Regions from separate parts of the Homo sapiens genome. Here regions 2 and 3 are each linked to region 1. The links come from fine-mapping of genetic effects on gene expression. A gene starts in region 1. Each other region holds a variant in brackets. All regions are shown on one strand. Distances are between the middles of the regions. Region 1 holds the start of ZNF639 (zinc finger protein 639). Region 2 overlaps GNB4 (G protein subunit beta 4). Region 3 overlaps MFN1 (mitofusin 1).

The links. PIP is the estimated chance that this variant, and not a neighbour inherited with it, causes the effect.
Region 2: its variant is fine-mapped to the expression of ZNF639 in whole blood (TOPMed, PIP above 0.99).
Region 3: its variant is fine-mapped to the expression of ZNF639 in whole blood (INTERVAL, PIP above 0.99).

Annotation. Positions count from the first base shown.
Region 1 is chr3:179,318,846-179,327,031 of GRCh38, reverse strand. It overlaps ZNF639 (zinc finger protein 639), which reads right to left and starts at 4,001. Exons shown (of 6, transcript NM_001303426.2): 1 at 3,741-4,001. RefSeq lists enhancers at 1,901-2,000, 3,042-3,091 and silencers at 3,662-3,801, 3,832-4,271.
Region 2 is chr3:179,416,264-179,424,449 of GRCh38, reverse strand. It overlaps GNB4 (G protein subunit beta 4), which reads left to right. Exons shown (of 10, transcript NM_021629.4): 3 at 3,523-3,561; 4 at 4,945-5,051; 5 at 7,894-7,957. Among named protein-coding and RNA genes, the nearest start is that of GNB4, 31 kb to the left of the region's middle. The variant T/C (reference allele first, on the strand shown) is at 4,965.
Region 3 is chr3:179,377,445-179,385,630 of GRCh38, reverse strand. MFN1 (mitofusin 1) reads right to left here. Exons shown (of 18, transcript NM_033540.3): 12 at 8,183-8,186; 13 at 7,188-7,290; 14 at 6,817-7,046; 15 at 1-62. Among named protein-coding and RNA genes, the nearest start is that of MFN1, 34 kb to the right of the region's middle. The variant T/AT (reference allele first, on the strand shown) is at 3,557.

The DNA.
Region 1 (8,186 bases):
TTTTAGCAGAGACGGGGTTTCACCATGTTGGCCAGGCTGGTCTCAAACTCCTGACCTCAGGTGATCCACCCACCTGGGCCTCCCAAAGTGCTGGGATTACAGGCGTGAGTCACCTTGCCTGGCCCAAATTATAAACTTTAAACTGTTACAGCCCTTATAGATTATTTATTTAAGAAATAAAAGATCGAGACCAGCCTGGCCAATATGGTGAAATCCCGTCTCTGCTAAAAATACAAAAATCAGCCGGGTGTGATGGTGCGCACCTGCAATCCCAGTTACTCAAGAGGCTGAGGCAGGAGAATGGCTTGAACCTGGGAGGCGGAGGGCTACAGTGAGCTGACATCGTGCCACTGCACTCCAGCCTGGGCAACAGAGCAAGACTCTCTCTCAAAAACAAAAAATCAAAACAAAACAAAAAAAGAAAAAAGTAAAAGTGATAATAATAATTTACTGACCACCAATTATGTACCAGGCTGTGAACATACTTTATCTCATTTAATCCTATGTAATCGTATGAGATGCAAAATTCACATCACCCTCTCAAAATTATAGTTCCTGTTATTGAGGAAACTGAGGCACAGTAAAGTCAAAGCTAGATACTCAGTAAATGCTGGGGTTGGGATTTGAATAAAGGTTTACCCAACTTTATTTATTAATCTATTTATTTATTTGAAACGGAGTCTTGCTCTGTCACCCAGGCTGGAGTGCAGTGGCACGATCTTGGCTCATTGCAACCTCTGCCTCCCCAGCTCAAGCGATTCTCCTGCTTCAGCCTCCTGAGTGGCCGGGATTACGGGCGCCCGCCAGCAGGAGGCTGGGATTACAGGTACCCGCCAGCACACCCAGCTAATTTTTGTATTTTTAGTAGAGACGGGGGTTTACTATGTTAGCCAGGCTGGTCTTGAACTCCTGACCTCAAGTGATCCGCCCACCTCAGCCTCCCAAAGTGCTGGGATTACAGGCACGAGGCACCGCGCCCGGCCTATAATGCTCTTAACACCAAGGTGATACACATGACAGGTGTTCTAGCTGAGGTGCACATACTATTTTTGCTGCTTCACTAAGTTCTGGGTATATCAGCACTGAAGTGATATAATACAGCAGGGAATGAGATAGTGCTTTTTCAGTTTATTTTATTTTTACTTTTTTTTCGGACAGAGTCTCGCTCTTTCGCCCAGGCTGGAGTGCAGTGGCGCTATCTTGGCTCACTGCAAGCTCCGCCTCCCGGGTTCATGCCATTCTCCTGCCTCAGCCTCCCAAGTAGCTGGGACAACAGGCGCCCGGCTAATTTTTTGTATTTTTAGTACAGACGGGGTTTCACCGTGTTAGCCAGGATGTTCTCGATCTCCTGACCTCGTGATCTGCCCGCCTCGGCCTCCCAAGGTGCTGGGATTACAGGCGTGAGCCACCGCGCCCGGCCTTTTCAGTTTATTAAGCATTTTCCTAACCCTTATTCTATTTCATCTTCAAAATGGTCCTGTGCGGTACATGGAGGAGTTACTATCAAACCCATTTACATTTTTACTGATGTGGAAACAGCCTTAGTGAAAGTTAAGTCAACTAATAAGTGGGAGAACCAGAGATGAAAATGCATGCACATCTTGCTTCCAGTTCTTAGCTACCAGTTGGGAGAAGGGGAACAGAATAGCCTAAAGAAACAGACAACCATGAAATGTACAGAAATGATACCAATATATAAAATACCTCACCTCGCCGGGTGCAGTGGTTCACGCCTGTAATCCCAGCACTTTGGGAGGCCGAGGCGAACAGATCACCTGAGGTCGGGAATTCAAGACTAGCCTGACCAACATGGGGAAACCCCGTCTCGACTGAAAATACAAAATTAGCCGGGCGTGGTGGCACATGCCTGTAATCTGAGCTACTCGGGAGGCTGAGGCATGAGAATCGCTTGAATCCGGGAGGCGGAGGTTGTGGTGACCCGAGATCACATCATTGTCCTCCAGCCTGGGTAACAGGAGTGAAACTCTGTCTAAAAAAGAAAGAAAGAAAGAAAAAAGAATAAAATCAAACGCCTCACCTAACAATGTAAACAATCATTCCTTGAGTAACCATCTCAATTCACTGCATTCAAAAATCAAAAAGAGAAGAGCTATTACGATTCATATAGCCCAAAGCTTCACACTTCATGTTCTAAATACTCTAAAAGTATCAGGGAGAACACTGAAAACACTCAGCCGAACATGTTAAGTAGTCTCTTGTTATTTCAGAATGCATCTCAAGTTCTTTGCAACTTGAAGAATAAAAGTAAGAAAAGGAAACCAAGCGTGGTATTAAAATCAACGTTGCAAGCTGGCCTGGATTCAGGCTGTTAGGTGAGAGGAGGAGGCACACGGATCAGGAAGGGTCTGACTCCTACTTAGGGCCGAACGATAACCAAATGTCTATCGGACTTCCTTTCAGCACAATGGTGATGCCTACTCAAGACCAAAAATGCTAACCATCCTTCATTTTAGCAATCATTTTTATGTGCCTTTTGTGTGCATAACAGCCTTGAAAAAACTTAGCTTTCTACTCAAGGATGTCATAAACATTTGCTCACTAGTCTTCTTAGCAGGAAGATTCTGAATCACAAGCAACCTATCACAGTCCCCCCTCCCTCTGAAATACAAACGACATATGTAACACGTGTCACTGCAGAAAAATCAGAAAAATGTTTAAAAATTTTTTATATCACCTAGAAACCAACATCTTTCCACCTGTCATTTTTTTCAACCAACAAGAAAGTCTATGCACAAAATAGAATACATACAACAGGCAGTCAGCAATCATCAAATAGATAAACGTTTCAAAAGGCCTTTCATGCAATGTATATTCTTCCTAATTGCTGTAAGACGTCTTTACAGTAAATAACTCCATTTTTAACGAGTTTAAAAAGAGTTAAGCTTTCTTTTTCGTTCTCATTAAAATAAGCATATGCTTTAAATTGTAAAAGAATTGAAACAAAAACATGTTGCAGGAGAGCCTGAACTAGAATCCACTACATGTCCAACGTGGAGGCAGTCTTTACTGCAATATCACACGGTCACTAAATACTTGATTCGCTATTTTTCAGTCCGGCATAAATCTTTCTCTTCGAAAAAAACAAAAAAGGCATAAACTGCTTCAAATGATTCGTTTCCCTAGACAGTACTTAAAGACAAAACCAAAAAAGGGGGTTTCTAAGCACCGTCACACGAGTGAGGCGACTCTCAGGCTGGAGGCTTTGGGCGCCAGCATCGACGCCTGCTCTCCGCGGCTACAACTCGTTGCGCGAGCCCGGGGATTCGCCGCCGGAGGTCACGAAGCCGCCGGGCAGGGCCGCAGCGCCAGCGAGGACCCAGGATCGTCCCGAGCCCGGACGCAGCCAGACAAATGCCCGTCGGAGGCGCAGGGCAGAAGTCCCTGGGACTTAGCCGCCTCCACCCCGGCGCCACGCACCAGCTTCGCCCGGGCCCAGAAGCCGGCGCCAAGGAGACTTCCAAGCCCCGACACCAAAGGTTCCGTAAAGACAACGGCAGCAGGGGGCCGAGGGGAGCCCGGCCAAGGCGTCCTGCGCAGGGGGTGGAACTGCCTTCGGGATGGGGGAGGGGAACGCCATCCCGCCATATAACGAAGGCAGAGTTTCCGTATAAAGGGAGCTCCGGTCTCTCCCGCCCTCTCCCGTTAGAAGATGCGCCCGCACGCCCGCGTCCCCTGGAGCAGTCCAGCGCCCGACCCACCCGCTCCTCCCTCACACTCACCAGTCAGTCCCCCGAGGCCCTCCCGGCCGGCCCACGCAGAGGCGGCGGCGGCCGAGAGCGCAGGCGGAGGGGCCGCGCGGTCCTTCCCGCGGACGCACGGCGGCGGGCAGCGCTGCTCCGGCCCTAGCGCTCCCGGACGCTGTGCTGGGCCGACCCCTCTCCCTCCCCGCGCGCCCCACGCCCTGAGCGCCAGGCCCCTGGCCTAGGCTCCGCGGCCGCACTGCCCTGGCCGCCACGCTCCGCGCCTGCGCCGCGCACCTCAGGGGCCCGCCGAGAGGGCGGGGAGGTGACGAGGTGAGGTGGGGGCAGGGAGCGGGCTGCGCGAACGCACCGCACACGCGGCCTGGGAGGGACCACCGGCCCGCAGCCCCGGGGGAGGCCCAGCGGCCCGCGCCCCCTGCCGGAGGCCTTGCGCCGCCGCAGTCTCCTTCTGGGCGGGGAAGAGCCCCTCCCGAGCCCCGAGGGCGATCCCACCCTCTAGGATTACTCCACGCCAGGCGGCCAGCGAATTTATCCCGCCCGCCTCCACCGCCCCTTCAAGCCCTGGGGAACTGGGAGAAACGTGGCGCGCAGCGGCACCTTTCCCACGCTGCTCCTCAAGGGAAAGGACGCGAGTGGTCTTGCCCAGGTTAGGCAAGGCAGATGGCATCTCAGACCCCGAAGTGTGCCAGCCGCCTGTTGGGGACAGAGAGGCCGAGGACCTCGTCACGGTTTTACTGAGGCCACACCAGAGAACCACCTAGGGCTAGGATGCTGCCCTCAGGGCAAGAGGGTGAAACCTGAAGACTGCGAGTCGTTGTTGAGTTTCACCCGATTCCTTGGCTCGAGAAATAGTGGAATGAATGAGGAGTTAAGGGGGACTGGACTCGACGATTTAAGTCCTTTCTCGACTTTGACTTTCTTTGAGCAGCTGTAGAAATGATTAAATTACACGAGCATAAATAAATTTGTGAACATGGTTCCATAAATGATCTCTGTGCAAGTGTGGTGATATGTTTAATTCAGTCCTTTTGACAATGAGTTGAGGTTTTTAGTCACATTTTACAAAATGGAAAAGTAAATGTGTGAGAAGCTAAAGACTGGGTCTTAATTCATTTTGGTAGCCTAAACCCCTGAGGTTCAAACGGTTAAGAGGATGACTGAGAGCCATGTGGATTATCAGGTACCCAAGGTCACTCGGATAGTTAGGGCTGCAATGATGTCTCTTTGTTCACGTCCACTGCTTTTTCTGACAACCACATGCCAATCAACCAATCAATCGCTGGAAAGTAATAATCACAGACTTTACTCTGATCCCTTCACCATCCCCCAGGAGATAAAGCTATATTTGAAAGAGACACTACTTGTTTGTGAGGCTCAGTTTTTATGACCTCCTAAGTTTTATGTGCGTACTCAGCTCAAATAAATGCTCACGAATGCTAGTATGGCCCGAATTAAAGTTCGAAGAAATGTAGAGACATTTTTAAATCCTAGAATAGTTAGTATCTAGCACAGAACCGGGAATCGGTGGAAACCACAAGGGGGTGTCATGCCACCATCTTACCATTTTGCCTTACCACATAGCCTTGTGTCCAACAAAATCTTTATATTTCAAAATGAAGTTTTACTCCAAAACATTTTGTAGTGAAAGTAAACGCACACTCTCCCCAGCATCCCACGTATTGTTTGCACTTAGAGGAGCTTGACTTTGTTTAGATGTTGTTTAACATAGTCACAAATTGCAAGCAATTTCAAGTTCTTGATTAGCTGGAGTGTTTTTCAGTTTCATTTTTGGGTCCCTCTTTTCCTCATCTCCCGCTCCAAGGGAGGGTGATAGCTGGGATAAAACCCTAAAATCTCAAGAGTGCTAAATTGTAGAGTTTGTTAAATACTATTATAAATTTGATTCAGGGCTATTAAAACATCGTTCTTCCAACTTTTTCACACACTTGTAGAATAGCTTAATTTCTCCTTCCTTTCCTTCCTTCCTTTTCTTTTTTTTCTTTTTTCTTTCTCACGGTCTCACTCTGTCGCCCAGGCTCCAGTACAGAGATGGGATATCGGCTCACTGCAATCTCCACCTCCTAAATTCAAGCAATTCTCGTGCCCCACCCTTCAGATTAGCTGAGATTACAGGCGCGAGCTGCCACACCTGGCTAATTTTTGTATATTTAGTGGTGCTGAGATTTCACCATATTGGCCAGGCTGGTCTTGAGCTTCTGGCATCAAGTGATCCGCCCGCCTTGGCCTCCTAAAGTGCTGGGATTACAGGCGCGAGTCACCGCGCCCGGCCACTTAATTTCTTCCTGATTAGAAAATAGTTACGTTTTTAGTACAGAATGGAGACAACAGAAAAGTACAAAGAGCAAAAGTAAATTTACCATAATCTCACAACCCTGAGCTCATCAATGGTAACATTTTGCTTTCTATCTTTCCGTTATTTTTATACCTATACTGACATAAAAATTTGTTTTCAAAATTAGAATATTGGCTGTGTTTTTTTCTAACAGGTTCTTTTTTCCAATTAGTATAGCACGAGCATTCTTTATGTTTTTTGTTTGTTTGTTTGTGTGTTTTTGAGACAGAGTCTTGCTCTTTCGCCCAGGCTGGAGTGCAATGACGTGATCTTGGCTCACTGCAACCTCCGCCTCCCAGATTCAAGCGATTCTCCTGCCTCATCCTCCGAGTAGCTGGGATTACAGGCGCGTGGCACCACACGGGGCTAATTTTTGTATTTTTAGTAGAGACGGGTTTCACCATGTTGGCCAGGCTGGTCTCAAACTCCTGACCTCAGGTGATCCGCCCACCTCGGCCTCCGAAAGTACTGGGATTACAGGCGTAATTGCAGTTTGTTGTTTTTTAATTTTGTTAGTGGTGCAAACATTTTAAATTGTAGTGAAAGCAAGTCTATTAATCTTTTCCTTTGCAAGTTCTATTTTTGGCCTTTTGCTGAGATAATCTTTTCTTCTATGCAGGATCTGGTTGCATTTTTTGCTTTAACTTTTTCGTTTGTCTACAATTTATTTTGGGATATGGGATGAAGAGAACTGGGTAAATCTGGACTAGGGCCTGAGTAGCTGCAGTTCTAACAAATTTCCTTTCGAAGTCCATGCTGCTGGCCTGTGATCACGTCTGGAGAACCACTATCCTAAGTCTTTCCTCACCCAACCCCACACTAACCATATAGTATTTCTCACTATTCCACAGATACGCTCTGCCTTTTTCTCACTTGTGTGATCTAGCACGTTTCTTCCACCTGCAATTTGTTTCCTTTGTTTCTGTAAGATGAAGCTCACAGTTGATCTCTTCTATGAAACCTTGATTTTCCCTTGCCGAAATCTCTGACCAATCTTTAGAGATTCCACAGTAGTTAGTACATTTGTCCACTTCTCCCCAGAGATGGAGTTACTGTGAAGTTACTGAAGCTTAAATTTCAAGTCCCTTCAATTGCATGAACCTCTTCCAGGACCACGTGCTTAATTTTGTATTATTTATTTTGAGACAGAATCTCACTCTATCGCCCAGGCTGAAGTGCAGTGGTATGATCTCGGCTCTCTGCAACCTCCTCCTTCTGGGTTCAAGCGATTCTCGTGACTCAGCTTCCCAAGTAGCTGGGACTACAGGTGCGCACCACGATGCCTGGCTAATTTTTGTATTTTTAGTAGAGACGAGATTTCACCATGTTGGCCAGTCTGGTCTCAAACTCCTGACCTCAAGTGATCCACCCACTTCGGCCTCAGCAAAGTGCTGGGATTACAGGCATGAGCCACCACACCCAGCCTGTATTAAAATTTTATATTATTTTTCTCAAATTGATCTTCCCAGTTTGCATAAGCGTCTGCCCTTGCAAAATTTGGCTCCATCTGTTCATCATGTTGTCTCTCCACGGACCCTAAGTTCCAGTTTTATTATCTTCCAATCTGCTCCATTTCCCTGCTTAGCACAGTATCTTGCATACAGCCTCATTCATTTCTTTCAGTAGAATATTCATTGCATATCTACCTTGTGTTCAGCACTGTACTAGATACTGGCAATACAGTGTGAGCAAGATAGACATGGTCATTGGTCTCCTGGTCCTTACAGTTGAGTAGGGAATATGGGCAATTATACAACACTGGAATGTAATTAGTAAACTTACATAGTGCAGGTATGGGAACACATGACACATGGCCTAGCTTGGTATTCTGTTTGTCGAATGAATTGATAAACTCTGTCATGGTTACCTAGTCAGCTAACACTAGTGCACACCTAAGGGACACGCTTCTGACTCAGGCATGAGGTGGCTGCATGCAAAAGTCTCAAGTTAGTCATCTCACATACTCAACAGAGCCATCTGAGCTCCAAAATTCCAAGCCACCCTTACACAGGTACAAGGACTAAATTTATACATTTCTTTTTTGAAAGCACTACAGGCCAGGTATGGTGGCTCACACCTGTAATCTCAGCACTTTGGGAGGCCAAGGCAGG
Region 2 (8,186 bases), 97 kb before region 1:
ATGAGTTGAAATCTTAGGTATCTCAACAAAGCTTTCAGAACAAAGGAGAGATGTATTTTGCCTGGGATAATCACAGAAGGCTTCGCAGACTCATCTCTGAATTCGATGTTACTGCACCCACTAGAAGGAATTTCTGCCCTCTCTACTTTGTGTCACTTACTCCAGATGCTGAGCAGGAGCAGCTGATTGGCTAAACCATGTGGCCACATGCCTATCTCATTTAATCCTCACACCGACTCTGTGAAGTCGATGGTGTTACTTCATTTAATAGTTGAGGAAGCTGAGGCTCAGTGAGATTAAATAAGTTGCCAAGGTAACAGATCCAGGATTCAGACCAGGTGTGTTCTGCTATAACTTAAAGTTGGTTCTCCCAACCTTAGTTACTAATGTCCTTTCCTGCGACTTGTGCTGTAGCCATACTAGTCTGGTTCCCTGAACACGCATTACTCTTTCTCATCTCCTTTCCTGCGACTTGTGCTGTAGCCATACTAGTTTGGTTCCCTGAACACGCATTACTCTTTCTCATCTGTTACCTTTTATCAAATTGTTCCCTTGGCCTGGAATTATACGACTTCTGAGCCAATTTTGCTCTTTGGAAATCCTATCTGTTGAGTCCTAATCCTCCAAGAGCCCTCCACTTGGATTTATCTTTTTTTTTTTTTTAAATCAGAGTGAGACGGAGTCTCAGTCGCCCAGGCTGGAGTGCAGTGGTGCGATCTCTTCTCACTGCAACCTCTGCCTCCCAGGTTCAAGTGATTCTCCTGCCTCAGCGTCCTGAGAAGCTGGGTCTATAGGCACACACCACCACGCCCAGCTAATTTTGTATTTTTAGTAGACACGGGGTTTCACCATGTTGGCCAGGGTGGTCTTGATCGCTTGACCTCATGATCCACCTGCCTCGGCCTCCCAAAGTGCTGGGATTACAGGCGTAAGCCACCACGCCCAGTCAAGTTTCTTAACTTCATTGATGATCAGTATCTTTGCTGTGAAGCAAGAGTACCAGTACCCCACTTTATATGTTTCTGCAGAGGATTAAGTGAAATAACACATAGAGGACTTAGTCTGCTGCCAGCAAGTGGCAGATTTTTACTTGTACAGCATGTTGGACTTCTGTTATAGAGCTGATCACGGTCTGCCTTGTGTTGTAGTTCTTGTGCATATTTGCCCCTACTGTTTGTACCTAGATGGATAATTTTGTGTCTTAATCATCTCCGTATCTCACTAGCATCCCAAGCACAATGTCGTGGGCGCAGGTGCTCACCAAATCATCTCCTCCCATGATTTGAAGTAACCACATATATGTAAAATACTATGTACTTTTCTTAGTTTAATTGTCACACTATATTTAAAAATCTTTCTGGCTGGGCACGGTGGCTCACACCTGTAATCCCAGCACTTTGGGAGGCTGAGGCGGGTGGATCACGAGGTCAGGAGATCGAAACCATCCTGGCTAACATGGTGAAACCCCATCTCTACTAAAAATACAAAAAAAAGCTGGGCGTGGTGGTGGGTACCTATAGTCCCAGCTACTCGGGAGGCTGAGGCAGGAGAATGGCATGAACCTGAGAGGCAGAGCTTGCAGTGAGCCAAGATGGCGCCAGTGCACTCCAGCCTGGGCGACAGAGCAAGACTCTGTCTCAAAAAAAATCTTTCCTTCCTTCCTCCTCCCATCTGGAAATATAATCTAACTATATTTTTACCTTACTATAGTGTAAATACATGATATAATAGAAATGTATGCTATGTATTATAATAGATGATTTGTTTTAAATTTTAAAAAATGCAAATAGAGAAAATAGATTTTGTTTTCTTGTGTAATTGTTATGTCTTTGATTTGCAAAAAAGTATGTATCATCTTTCTTTTGCACAAATATCTTACCAGATTTTTTATTTCTTGTGGTGCTGGACAGTATGGAATTCAGCCTTTAATTGGGAATATTTTTTATATTCTGTTCTTTTTTTTGTTTTGTTTTGCTTTTTTTTTTTCCAGAGACAGGGTCTCACTGTTTTGCCCAGGCTTATCTAAAACTCCTGGGCTCGAGCGATCCTTCCTCCTCGGCCTCCCAAAGTGCTGGGATTATAGGCATGAGCCATCACGCCTGGCCTTATATTCTGTTTTATAATGGATAATAGTGTTCATAAGAGAGAGTTCTCAGTGTAAATAGAATCTTTGCATAATGTAATTTTGCACATAACTGCTGCTAACATATTTGTAGAATTCTTGTATTCCAACATAATATTTTAATTTTTGTTACCAATTTTCAGCGTAGTTCAATAATTTCCATTTGCAATTTTTAAATTGTGTTACTAATATTAATGTAAGCTCAATGAGGGCAGAGATTTTTGACGCCTATTGGTGCCTAGAATAGTGCCTGACACATAGTGTTCAACCCAGTTTTTTTAACAACTAACTAAATTAAAAAAGATAGTCTAAACAATGATGGTTCATTTTCATAAAGCTTGAAGTCAAAGAACCTTTTTTAAGAATTTGGTCTTTAACTCTACCATTTTTGGAACATGGTTCAGGCCCATCACTGTCATTTCTGGAAACTCTTCATTATAGGAAAGTGGGCTACATTATTCCTTACCAGATGAGGTCTTTAAACCCACAATTTGGCTAAGAATGAAATAATCAAATCACATGTTTAGTGCAACTACTTGTGAACACCCTTACTTAGAAATATTCTGAGTGGTTATAAATAGGTTGAAAGGGCAGCCAGAAAGATCATGTCTGCCATCCAGTGTTTGCTGGGAGCTGAAGCAGGCATTTTTCCCTCGGCTGACTGGAACAAGTTGTCCATTTGGGACATTTATTCAGCAAACATCTTGTGCGTTCTCCTTGCCCAGGACTATGCAAGTACTTAAACACTGTATAGAAAAAACAAAATTGAAGAGGATACTACTATAACCTTTGTGGAAAAAAGTTTAAGCCTAGCAGGAAGGATTTAATTTCATTTCTTATTTTTCTATGTATATAAATCCTCTAAATTTGTTAACTGATAAATTTGAAAAAAACTGATGTTTGGTGTAAAACTTTTTTTATTAAATATGTTCTTTGCAGTCTTTAATTTTTTGTTAATTTCTGCTTCACCGTCTTCCTTTTGATAATCCTTTTCAGTTTGTATAAAAATTTGAGGTCTCTCAAATTTTTATTGACATCTCTCAAATTTTGTTCAGAAGAGGCAAATCCATAGAGAAAGAAAGTAAATTAGTGACTGTTAAGGGCTGTGAGAGAAAAAGGAATTAGGAGATATGGGGTTTCTTTTTTGGGGTGATGTAAATGTTCTGTAATTAGTGGTGATGGTCACACAACATTGTGATACTAAAAACTACTGGATTACATGCCTTAAAATGGTTAAAATGGTTTGATTTAGGTTATGTGATTTTTATATCAATTAAAAAAATTTTTAAAGATGTGGTACAGTGAGAAGTAAATTCACAAATCTACGTTTTCAATAAAAGTATCACTTTAGTCATTCCACAGGTTGCTAAATGCATTATAATCATATTTTTTTACTTCAGGATGCTCGGAAAGCATGTAATGATGCAACGCTTGTTCAGGTAAAGTTTTGTTTTTCTTTATTTCATTTTGGTAACTCATAAAATAATTTGACATAGAGGCAAATGACATTCAGATTCTTGTATTAGTGCTTAATTGAAAAAAGTTAAATGAAATCTCTGTGTAAAAGCACTTCGTAATTTGTCAAATGCTATACAGTGCGAGTGCTTTTTAAAATATATTGTTAAAATAGACATCTATGGAAAAATAAATGCTATAAAAATATACCAGCTATACCAACATGGTAAAACCTCATCTCTACTAAAAATAAAAAAAATTAGCTGGGCATAATCCCAGCTAGTCGGGAGGTTGAGGCAGGAGAATTACTTGAACCCAGGAGGCAGAGGTTGCAGTGAGCTGAGATCGCACCATTGTACTCCAGCCTGGGCGAGAAGAGTGAGACGCCGTCTCAAAAAAAAATATATATATATATATGTATATATATTTTCAAGGCCAAGCATGGTGGCTCATGTCTGTAATCCCAGTACTTTGGGAGGCCGAGGTGGGAGGATCACTTGAGGTCAAGAGTTTGAGGCCAGCCTGGCCAACATGGTGAAACCCTGTCTCTACTAGAAAAAAAAAAAAAACATGAAAGTTAGCTGGTCATGGTGGTGCCTGCCTGTAATCCCAGCTACTTGGTAGGCTGAGGCAGGATAATCGCTTGAACCTGGGAGGCAGATATTGCAATGAGCCGAGATCCCTACTGCATTCCAGCCCAGGAGACAAAGTGAGACTCTGTCTCGAAAAAAAAAAAATTATATATATTTATGTATGTATATATATATGTATGTATAGATTCATATAGTTTATGCTTCTTTTTAAATAGTTTCTGATTCTTTTTGGTATACCCTGATTAAGTGTTTTTTTCCTTATGAAAACTCTTAGGTTGGGAATGAGATAGTAAGAGGGGTCAAGAAGACTAATATTTTTAAAAAATCTTGGGAAGGCTTCATGTTTAATTAATATTGATCATTATTATTAAGGAAGTATTTTATGTGCTCTACAAATATAAAATTGGCTTTCTTACAGTTAAAATTGTAAATGTTTACTGTGATCATTTGCCTCTAGATTTTTATTTGTGGCTGGTTTTTTACTAAAGCATAGAGGTATATCTATTCTTTTTAGTTAATAGTCTGCAGAAGGCATTCTTATTATACATTTATGTATATTATTTATAACAGCACATAGGATTATTTTAAACTAATCATAATTTTCAGGAACATATTGATCCCATAACGGCTCTGTGGAATTATATACATTAAATTACCTTCAGTTACTATAAATGTACTTTATGTTTGCTTTTTTAACTCCTCACTGTTTCTAGTTCAAGTTATCTCATGAACTATGATTAAGGTAAAGAATAACATTTTTGTTGCTTTCAAAAGATTACATCAAATATGGACTC[T/C]GTGGGTCGAATACAAATGCGAACAAGACGTACACTGAGGGGCCACCTAGCTAAAATCTATGCTATGCATTGGGGATACGATTCCAGGTTTGTACCTGTCATTACCTGTCATTTTTAAACTGTTGCAGAATTATTTTCATTAAGAACCATCATTTGCATTTTCTTTGTTTAAAAACAGAATATATTCATGAAGCGTTTGCAGAAAATGCATCTCAGATGAACATGCTGCTTTCAATAAGAATATTAATTGACTCTTTAAAAGTATAAACATTTTTAATATGGAATCCAGGACAACTGTTCAGAAGAGGATTCCTTTTCTTTGCAGTGGAACATTGCAGACATTCTTTGTTTTTTAAATAGGCACAAAGCGTTTTTACTGTATATGAAGCTTGAAATTTCAGTTCATAAGCAAATACGTATTGAACACCTATGTGCAAGTTTTTGGATATTGCTATAGTTTGTTATTACATAAATTCGCAAATAATGGAAATTACATGAAACAAAGGTGTTTGTACTGAATACATCTTTTACTCCCTCGACTGCATCACAGAAAGGTGTGTGCTTGAATGTGCAAGCTGACCATCTGCAGGTGCACAGGCACACGCACAGCTGCTACGTGGCCTACAGTTAGATAGATTGCTCATCACTGTCATTCACTATGTGTATAAGGCTACAGCACAGCCTATGTTTTTCCATTGTCTGGCAATAGCAGATGTGTCTGCTATCACAGTGGTTTACTTGTTCCTTTGATTTGGTTAATCTTAATGGGAAATGCCTAAACCAAGAAACTTCTATGTTTTAATAGAAGTTGCACATTTATTCTCTTCTCCCAGGAGACACTAAAATTATAAAGTAGAAGAAGCCTCAATTGTTGCTCTAATTGGGATACTTGACCACAATAATATAGAACATGTGCCTCTTACGAAGGGATACATAAAATTATATAATTGGCAACTGACATAATGTCTTAATCTTTTTCTTTTTCTTTTCTTTTTTCTTTTTTTTTTTTTTTTTTGAGACAGAGTTTCACTCTTGTTGCCCAGGCTGGAGTACAATGGTGTGGTATCGGCTCACTGCAACCTCTGCCTCCCAGGTTCAAGGGATTTTCCTGCTTCAGCCTCCCAAGTAGCTGGGATTACAGACATCCACAACCACGCCTGACTAATTTTTGTATTTTTAGTAGAGAGGGGGTTTCACCATGTTAGCCAGCCTGGTCTTGAACTCCTGACCTCAGGTGATCCAACCGCCTCAGCCTCCCAAAGTGCTGGGATTAATCAGGTGTGAGCCACCGCGCCTGGCCGAATGTCTTATTCTTTTTCTTAAAGGAGTTGAAGATAAAAATAATTTACCTGTTGATAAAGCAAAATTTTAACTTAAAATATAGTAACTTGAAACAATGTTTATGGTTCTTGCTTTCCTTAAACGTTTTCTGAAGACTGTTAATCTTCATAGAAAAATGAAACCATCATCCAGGAACCTATCTCACATAGTCTTCCCACCCATCCGTGTTATCAATCCATTACTTAATGTTCTCCTCAACTCTTATGCTGATGATGCCAATTGATTTCTAAAGAATTTTCTTTAGATGCCATCCTATACCCCACTATCAGATAGATCTTCCCTTTTGTAAAACCTTGTAGTGATTGCTACCCAAGAATCTGATAATGTTATTTACCTCTAGGGAAAGGAACTGGGTGGCTGATGATAGGCCCAGGAAGGTGCTTTTTAAATTTTCTTCTGTATATCCTTTTTTATTTTTTGAATTTTACACCATGGTGAAAAGTAAAAATTCCAAACAAGGCTGGGCATGGTGGCTCATGCCTGTAATCCCAGAACTTTGGGAGGCCAAGCGAGTGGATCACTTGAGGTCAAGAGTTCAAGACCAGCCTGACCAACATGTTGAGATCCCATCTTACCAGTCGTGGTGGTGCACACCTGTTATGCCAGCTATTCGGGAGGCTGAGGCAGGAGAATCACTTGAACCTGAGAGGCGGAGGTTGCAGTGGGCTGAGATCGTGCCATTGCACTCTAACCTGGGTGTCACAGTGAGTGTCTGTCTCAAAAAAAAAAAAAAAATCCAAACAAAACAAAAAATTTAGTGGCTAAAATTACTTAGGAGTTCATACTCTTTAGTTTAACAAAGCTTTCTGCAGTTTAAGCCCAGTCTGCTTTTCTCAACTTATTTTTCCATTTTCTCACAAACTGTACTACTGGAAGACCCACAATTCCTGAAACAACACTCAGTGTATTTTTCTACCTGTCATTGATCTTACATAGCTTTCTCCTAAAATACAGCCTTTTCTGTATCTTTAGCTCTCAACATTTTCTTTCAAGACTCATTCTCTTGTGATTAACTCATCTAGCCATTGTTCCTCCTTTACTCTCCTGTGGCATTTATTTTATACCCCTCTTCTGACAGTTTTTACTTACTTGATTTAATATAAATATGAGTAAATGTCTTATCTTCACCAGATGGTAGAGGCCTCAAGAGCAGGCGATGTATCCTGCGTTGTACCTCTAGTATTGTCATATTCTCAGGCTCTCAATTGGTGTTTTTAGATTGGATGAAATATGGTTGTTAGGCTTCTATGTACATTCTTGTCATGAAATTTAAGTAAGTCAGTAAGTACTAAACCAGTCAGCTAATATCCACCCAAATCTTGTATAACTAAGATGTTGTTACCACAAAAATGTTTAATCATAGCCAGACATTTTTAGTCAGTTGCTAAATTTTATTTTATGAAATATGTTCAAGATTTTTGGCATGCAGCATAAATTTTTTAAAAGTTGGAAGAACATTTTTTGGTATCAAGTTTTTAGTTGGAAAAATTGTATTTTTCTGAATTATTCTACATTAATGCAATGCATAACCAATTTAAGCTATTTTTTCCCTCTAAGTGTCAAATTATTTTTGTGTTTGTTCCTCTAGGCTGCTAGTCAGTGCTTCTCAAGATGGAAAATTAATTATTTGGGATAGCTATACAACAAATAAGGTAGAATTTCTTCATAATTCTTTTAAATAACCTTATATTTGTTTGGCTGTTCACCAGTTCTTTCCTTTATTCTTTTACCTCAAACTTAAATTGCTTTCTGAGATAAATTTATTGTTTATTTTAATCTAGTTCTTCTCTTTTGTCTTAGTGTTTACTTTTAATGTTTAACCCTTTTTCATTTCCAAAGATGACTCTATGTTTTACTAGAGGGCTCATATTTAATATATGA
Region 3 (8,186 bases), 59 kb before region 1:
GCATTATCTGGCGTTGCTGGAGTGGTAGGAGCAGTGGGAGTAGAAGCTAAAGATCTAGGGAGCTGCCAAAAAAAAAGAGAAAGGAAAAAAGATTACACTTAAACAACTATAAAGTTATCTTTATAAAACTCTAAAATTATAGTAGCACATCTATGAGGGAAAAATTACCCTAAATGATGAGTACACCACAAATATATGTAGAAAATAAAAATAATTTGGAAATTCTTATCTACAATATGGACCAATGATATCATGAACAATAAATTTTCATAATATACAATGGGGTCTAAATGTAACAGTAGGCCCTCAACTCTCAAGAGGAACAAAGTGTGTTTTTAAAAAAACTAACAACAAAAGCACAATCCTTGAAACAAACAACAACAAAAAATGATAAACTAAAAAAAAAAAAAAGGACTTCGGCCGGGCGCGGTGGCTCACGCCTGTAATCCCAGCACTTTGGGAGGCCGAGGTGGATGGATCTCGAGGTCAGGAGATCGAGACCATCCTGGCTAACACAGTGAAACCCTGTCTCTAATAAAAATACATAAAAAAAAAAAATTAGCCCAGCGAGGTGGTGGATGCCTGTAGTCCCAACTACTTGGGAGGCTGAGGCAGGAGAATGGCGTGAACCCAGGAGGCAGAGCTTGCAGTGAGCCGAGATTGCACCACTGCACTCCAGTCTGGACAACAGAGTGAAACTCAGTCTCAAAAAAAAAAAAAAAAAAAAAAAGGACTTCAAAATAAAAACCTCTTAAACTTCAAAACACACAGCCACAGGCAAGAGAAATATATTTGGGGCTGGGTGCAGTGACTTATGCCTGTAGTCCCAGCACTCTGGGAGGCCATGGCAGGAGGATAGCTTGAGACCAGGAGTTTGAAACCAGCCAGCACAGCACAGTGAGACCTTGTGTCTACAAAAATTTCTTTTAAATTAGCTAGGTGTGGTGGCACATGCCTGTGGTCCCAGCTCCTTGGAAGCAGAGGTGGCAGTGAACTGTGATCACACCACCATACTCCAGCTTGGGCATAGCAAGTCCTTGTCTCAAAAAATAAAGAAACATATTTGGAAATCATATATGTGAGAAAGGATTTGATCCAGAATATGCAAAGAAATCCTGCAACTCTATAGGACCCAAATAATTTAAAAATAGGTAAAAGCTTTGAATAGACATTTCACAAAAGAAGATACACAAATGGCTAGTGAGCACACAAAAAAGATGTTTAAAATCATTGGTCATTAGGGAAATGCAAATCAAACCTACAACGAATACTACTCTATACCCATTAGAACCTACGTATATACTCAAGAGAAATGAAAACGCACGTCCACATAAAAAACATGTACATGAATATTTATAGCAGTATTCATAATGGCCAAAAACTACAAACTACCCTAATGTCCATCAACTGGTGAATGGATAGTGTTGTATCTATAATGGAATATTCCTCAGCCGTAATAAGAAATGAAGTACTGATACATCCTACAACACTGATACCATGATGATAAACCTTGAAAACATTATACTAAGTGAAAGAAACCAGTCATATAAGGCCACATTCTATATGATTGCATTTATAGGAAACCTCCAGAAAGGGCAAATCCATAAACAGAAGGCAGATTAGTGGTGAGGCTGGAGGTGGAAATCATAATTGACTACAAATGAGTAAAACAGCTTTGAGGTGACAAAAACTAAAACTAAATTGTGGTGATGGTTTTACAATTTCACAAATTTCCTAAAAAATTACTGAATTGATAAATTTTTTAAAGTTTTTCTTTTAAAATGCTTGTATTCTCTTTTATTTCGATGAGCAGTGGTTTGTAGTTCTCCTTGAAGAGGTCCTTCACATCCTTTGTAAGTTGGATTCCTAGGTATTTTACTCTCTTCGAAGCAATTGTGAATGGGTGAAATGGAAGAACATTCCATGCTCATGGATAGGAGGAATCAATATCATGAAAATGGCCATACTGCCCAAGGTAATTTATAGATTCAATGCCATCCCCATCAAGCTACCAATGACTTTCTTCACAGAATTGGAAAAAAACTACTTTAAAGTTCATATGGAACCAAAAAAGAGCCCGCATTGCCAAGTCAATCCTAAGCCAAAAGAACAAAGCTGGAGGCATCACGCTACCTGACTTCAAACTATACTACACTACCAAACACTAACCAAAACAGCATGGTACTGGTACCAAAACAGAGATATAGACCAATGGAACAGAACAGAGCCCTCAGAAATAATACCACACATCTACAACTATCTGATCTTTGACAAACCTGACAAAAACAAGAAATGGGGAAAGGATTCCCTATTTAACAAATGGTGCTGGGAAAACTGGCTAGCTATATGTACAAAGCTGAAACTGGATCCCTTCCTTACACCTTATACAAAAATTAATTCAAGATGCATTAAAGACTTAAATGTTAGACCTAAAACCATAAAAACCCTAGAAGAAAACCTAGGCAATATCATTCAGGACACAGGCATGGGCAAGGACTTCATGTCTAAAACACCAAAGGCAATGGCAACAAAAGCCAAAATTGACAAATGGGATCTCATTAAACTAAAGAGCTTCTGCACAGCAAAAGAAACTACCATCAGAGTGAACAGGCAACCTACAGAATGGGAGAAAATTTTTGCAATCTACTCATCTGACAAAGGGGTAATATCGAGAATCTACAGAGAACTCAAACAAATTTACAAGAAAAAAACAACCCCATCAAAAAGTGGGCGAAGGATATGAACAGACACTTCTCAAAAGAAGACATTTATGCAGCCAATAGACACGTGAAAAAATGTTCATCATCACTGGCCATCAGAGAAATGCAAATCAAAACCACAATGAGATATCATCTCACACCAGTTAGAATGGCAATCATTACAAAGTCAGGAAACAACAGGTGCTGGAGAGGATGTGGAGAAATAGGAACACTTTTACACTGTTGGTGGGACTGTAAACTAGTTCAACCATTGTGGAAGACAGTGTGGTGATTCCTCAGGGATCTAGAACTAGAAATACTATCTGACCCAGCCATCCCATTACTGGGTATATACCCAAAGGAATATAAATCATGGTGCTATAAAGACACATGCACACATATGTTTACTGCAGCACTACTCATAATAGCAAAGACTTGGAACCAACCCAAATGTCCAACAATGATAGACTGGATTAAGAAAATGTGGCACATATACACCATGGAATACTATGCAGCCATAAAAAATGATGAGTTCATGTCCTTTGTAGGGACATCGATGAAGCTGGAAACCATCATTCTCAGCAAACTATTGCAAGGACAAAAAACCAAACACTGCATGTTCTCACTCATAGGTGGGAATTGAACAATGAGAACACTTGGACACAGGAAGGGGAACATCACACCCCGGGGCCTGTTGTGGGATGGGAGGAAGGAGGAGGGATAGCATTAGGAGATATACCTAATGTAAATGATGAGTTAATGGGTGCAGCACACTAACATGGCACATGTATACATATGTAACAAACCTGCACGTTGTGTACATGTACCCTAGAACTTAAAAGTATAATAAAAAAAAA[T/AT]TAAAAAAATGCTTGTATTTATGCTAGTTTATTTGAAATGTGAAAACCAAATCTTTTAAGAAAACAGAAATGTTTCAAAAATGAATGTAGCACCACCTGCAACAGTATTGGACGAAAGCTTTAGGATAAGCTTTCCCTTAAGCATACTACAGGTTGAGTGTCCCTTATCCAAAATGCTTGGGACCAGAAGTGTTTCAGATTTCAGATTTTTTAGGATTTTTGAATATTTCATAGATATAATGAGCTATCTTGAGGATGGGACCCAAGTCCAAACACAAAATTCATTTATGCTTCATATACCTTATATGCATAGCCTGAAGGTAATTTTATCCAATATTTAAATAATTTTGTGCATGAAACAAAGGTTGTGTACACTGACTTATCAGAAAACACAGGTGTTGCTATGTCAGCCACCCATGTGAACACTCTATGGTTGTTTGGCATCACCATCATTCTTGATTGAATTTACATACTACTGACAAGCAATCATTTTCTTACACGGATTCACACAAAGGAACTTAATAGTAAAAATATAAGACACACCATTAATAACAGTGAAAAATAACGTATTCAAACTAAGCAGCACAGTGGCATCACCAGAACACCTGTATCAGCTGTTAAACAGCAACAATGGCAGGCTTTCAGTCTCTACCTACAATGTTATGTTTTGATTAAAAAGTTCCGGTACACAGTACTTTGTTAGGTGAGAAGAAACATCAGAAGCAGTTGAGGGACCAAGAAGTGGGTCCTCTCGGCATAATAAGACATTGTGCTGAATGGCCTTTTAAAATGTTTCCTGCAGTACCACCTACTTGCCTCTTTAACAATGGTTTTTGTTGAAGTCTCTCCTTGATTTTATAAACCTATTTCTTGTTCTGTTATGAATACATGCTGCTCTAGTGCTTCAATAAGCCCATCACCATGCTGCCTATAGGCAGTTGTTCTGCGAGGTCAATGAAATCATCTTCATTATCACCATTATCATAATCACCTTGATTTAGAAGCATTTTAGCTATTTTGCCATCAGTTAATGAATGAACAACTGAAACCTCATTATCAATGTCAAACACTTCTTTGATATATCCTTCTTCCAGCTTACGGATGGACTCTGAAGATATTATTTTTTGCATAAGGAGCTCACTTGACATACTTCAAAGTCACCAATTTGCTCCTCATCATCAATAAATGTAGTGACAGGCAGAGGCTGCAGGCATACACAACTGAGTCACTGTCTTCCAAGTGCTGGCATATATGGCATCCTTCATCCTAAACTCCTTGTGCTGGCAAAAGCATCTATGGCATCTTTCATTCTAAACTCCTTCTGAAAACCTTCCACACCCAGGCCTCAGTTCACTGCTGCTAGCATGCTGCCCAAAAAAGGTTTTTGTATTTACTCTTCATTGATCGTAGAATACCCTGGTCACAAGGTTGAAATAATGAAACACTTTTTTTAATAAGAATTTCAGCTAGACGATGAGCAGAATAGTTGTCAAGGAATAACAAAATCTTGCAGTCATCATCCGGCCTAGCTTCCCTGCAAGTGCACACAAGCTGGTATAAAATGTTTGTGAAACCAATCAGAAAAGATGTCCCTAGGGATCCATGCCTTTTTGTTAGTACAATAATGGACTAGTAAAAAAAATGCATTCCTTGAAAACAGTGAGGATGCAAGCTTTTGCCTATCACAGTAAGTTCACATTTATGCCTGCTGCATTAGCACATCCCAGCACAGTTATTCTGTTCTTTGCATCCTTTATTCTTGTAGGGGCTGTCTCCTCAGCTGTAGTCAGTGTCTTTCTGGGTCAATAATGGCAAAACAGTGATGTTTCATCAGCATTATAGACTTGTTCTGGAGTCAGATTTTCATCAGAGACAATCTTGGCAAATTCATCAATGAATTTCTCTGCTGTTTTGTGATCAAGATGCTTTAACACCACAAACCTTTAGAAAAGTTAATGCTATCTTACCTTAAATTTCTCTAACCAGCCTATTGAATACTCACAGTTCCCTTCGATTTTCAGTTCATTTTAATAGATGTTTATTTCATGATCAGCATGTCCTTAAGTGGCACGTGTTCACTGCAATGCTGATGGATCCACTCTTTCAATGCATGATCAAGATCTTCGTTTTTAACTTTCTGCAGTGTTTTTGTTTTTTTCATTAACTTCTGTCATCATTTTTAGCATGGAACTTCAACAGTTTAGTCCTAAAGAACAACTTTAGGAAAGTTGTTCTTTCTTTTAGGTCATATATGGTGTTCATTCCAACATCATTCTTCTGTAAGAAGTTTCTCACTTACATTATTGTCCAGTTTTTCCAACAGCTTAAATTTATGTGTTATAAATAAAAATAAATGCCTCTTCTTTTTCTTATCAATGTCACCCACAAGGGTATCTGTAGGCCTTTTAAACATTTTAAACAGCCTGGGTGCTGTGGCTCACGCCTGTAATCCCAACACTTTGGGAGGCTGAGGCAGGTGGATCACTTGAGGTCAGGAGTTCGAGACCAGTCTGGCCAACACGGTGAAACCCCATGTCTACTAAAAATACAAAAATTAGCTGGGTGTGGTGGTGGGTGCGTATAATCCCAGCTGCTCAGGAGGCTGAGGCAGGAGAATCGCATGAACCCGGGAGGTGGAGGTTGCAGTGAGCCAAGATTGCACCACTGCACTCCAGCCTGAGCCACAGCGCAGGTCTCTGTCTCAAACGCATCCCCACTCAAAAAAAAATTTTTTTTAAACAGTATCTTTACACCAGAGAAAAGACAGGAAGTAAAGAAGCCCATACTGGGTAATGCACAAAGGTCTTGGCCCCTTGTGGGGCATCATGGGGAAAATGCTGTTGGTGCACTGGACCTGCACATGTGCCATTTTAGTACCCTTCATAGGTGTGCTTGTGTGGGGGAATTTGGGCATACGTGGAAAAGATATATTGCAGCTAGAAGAGGCTGAGTCTTTTTTCCCTTGAGGACACTGAATAAACTGTGTGTTGTGTGCCTGCGTTTTTACTATGACCTCATTGAGGTCTGGTGTGGAATTTTCCACCTGTGGTGTCACCGTACTCAAAAAGTTTTTCATTTTGGACCTTTAAGGATTTTCAGATTGGAGATGCTCAAACTAAATATCTACCTCAGAAATGGCTCTAAGAGATAGATACTAGCTTTTAAATGTGCAGATTTTGTAAAGCTAGTTTTATTATAGAAAAACCACATAAACAAAATAATAAAGGAGAGTCTTAATTGGTAGATTCAAAGATACATACCTGAAAGATAGGCTCTGATAATCCTAGGAGCACCCTTTGAGCATTTCTAGGGCCCAAAAATCGATGTACAAGGGAAGACCAGCCCAGGGAAAAACGAAATACAATATCCTCTTGAAAATCTGAACATAACTTGTGGTAATTTAGATTATAACTGAGATCAAATTTCTTGCAAGGGATCAGTGTATGTAGTTTATCCTGTATACCAGCTGGAAGTAATGGCTTCAAATTTTCTAGAAAGAACAAAATTACAACACTTAAGATAAGAATGGTAAATGTTTTACCTTCAATGGAATGCCTAAAGGAAAATAAGCTCTTCACCAGTCATGAATGAAAAAACAAACCAGACATGACCTTGTAGACATAAATATTACCAATAATTTCTTGCTGGGTCTGAAGCACTAAGGCGTTTACTTCATCGGTGCATCGATCAGCCAAATTTCTTCCCATACCATCCTCTATGTGCTTATTTAATTCCTGTTAACAATGGTAAATATCCATATTATTTTTTCTCCAGAAAGTATGTAGTTTTTATAAAGACATAAAATATTCAGTAAATGCCAAAATGGTCTTTTTAATTTGACTTTTTTTTTTTTTTTGAGACAGGGTCTTGCTTTGTTGCCTAGGCTGGAGTGCTTTGATCTTGACTCACTGTAGCCTTGACCTCCTAGGCTCACGCGATCCTCCTGCCTCAGACTCCTGAGTAACTGGGACTATAGAAGCGTGTCGCCATGCTTGGCTATTTTTTATTTTTTTTGAGATAGAGTTTTGCTCTTGTTGCCCAGGTTGGAGTGCAGTGGTGTGATCTTGGCTCACTGCCACTTCTGCCTTCCGGTTTCAAGCGATTCTCCCGCCTCAGCCTCCAGAGTAGCTGGTATTACAGGCGCCTGCCACCGGCTAATTTTTTTTTTGTATTTTTAGTAGACAGGGTTTCACCATGTTGGTCAGGCTGGTCTCGAACTCCTGACCTCGTGATCCGTCCGCCTCAGCCTCCCAAAGTGCTGGGATTAAAGGCGGGAGCCACCGCAACCAGCCTAACTGTTTTTTGTAGATTAGAGTTCTCACTGTGTTGCCCAGGCTGGTCTCGAACTCTGGGGCCCAACTGATCCTCCCACCTCGGCCTCCCAAAGTGTTGAGATTACAGGCATGAGCCACTGTGCCTCGTCCTAAAATGATCTTTATCTCATTCTAAGTATAAATTTTCTATTTACTTTTTATACAAGACAGTTTACATTTATTACAAGAGGGCACAAGAGATCTAACAGTTTCATTTTGTACTGATACACTGAAATGCCAAACCATGAAATAAATGAGGGTATAGAATAATAAGAAACTGTCTCTGAATAATTTTATCTATACTTTAACTTACACTT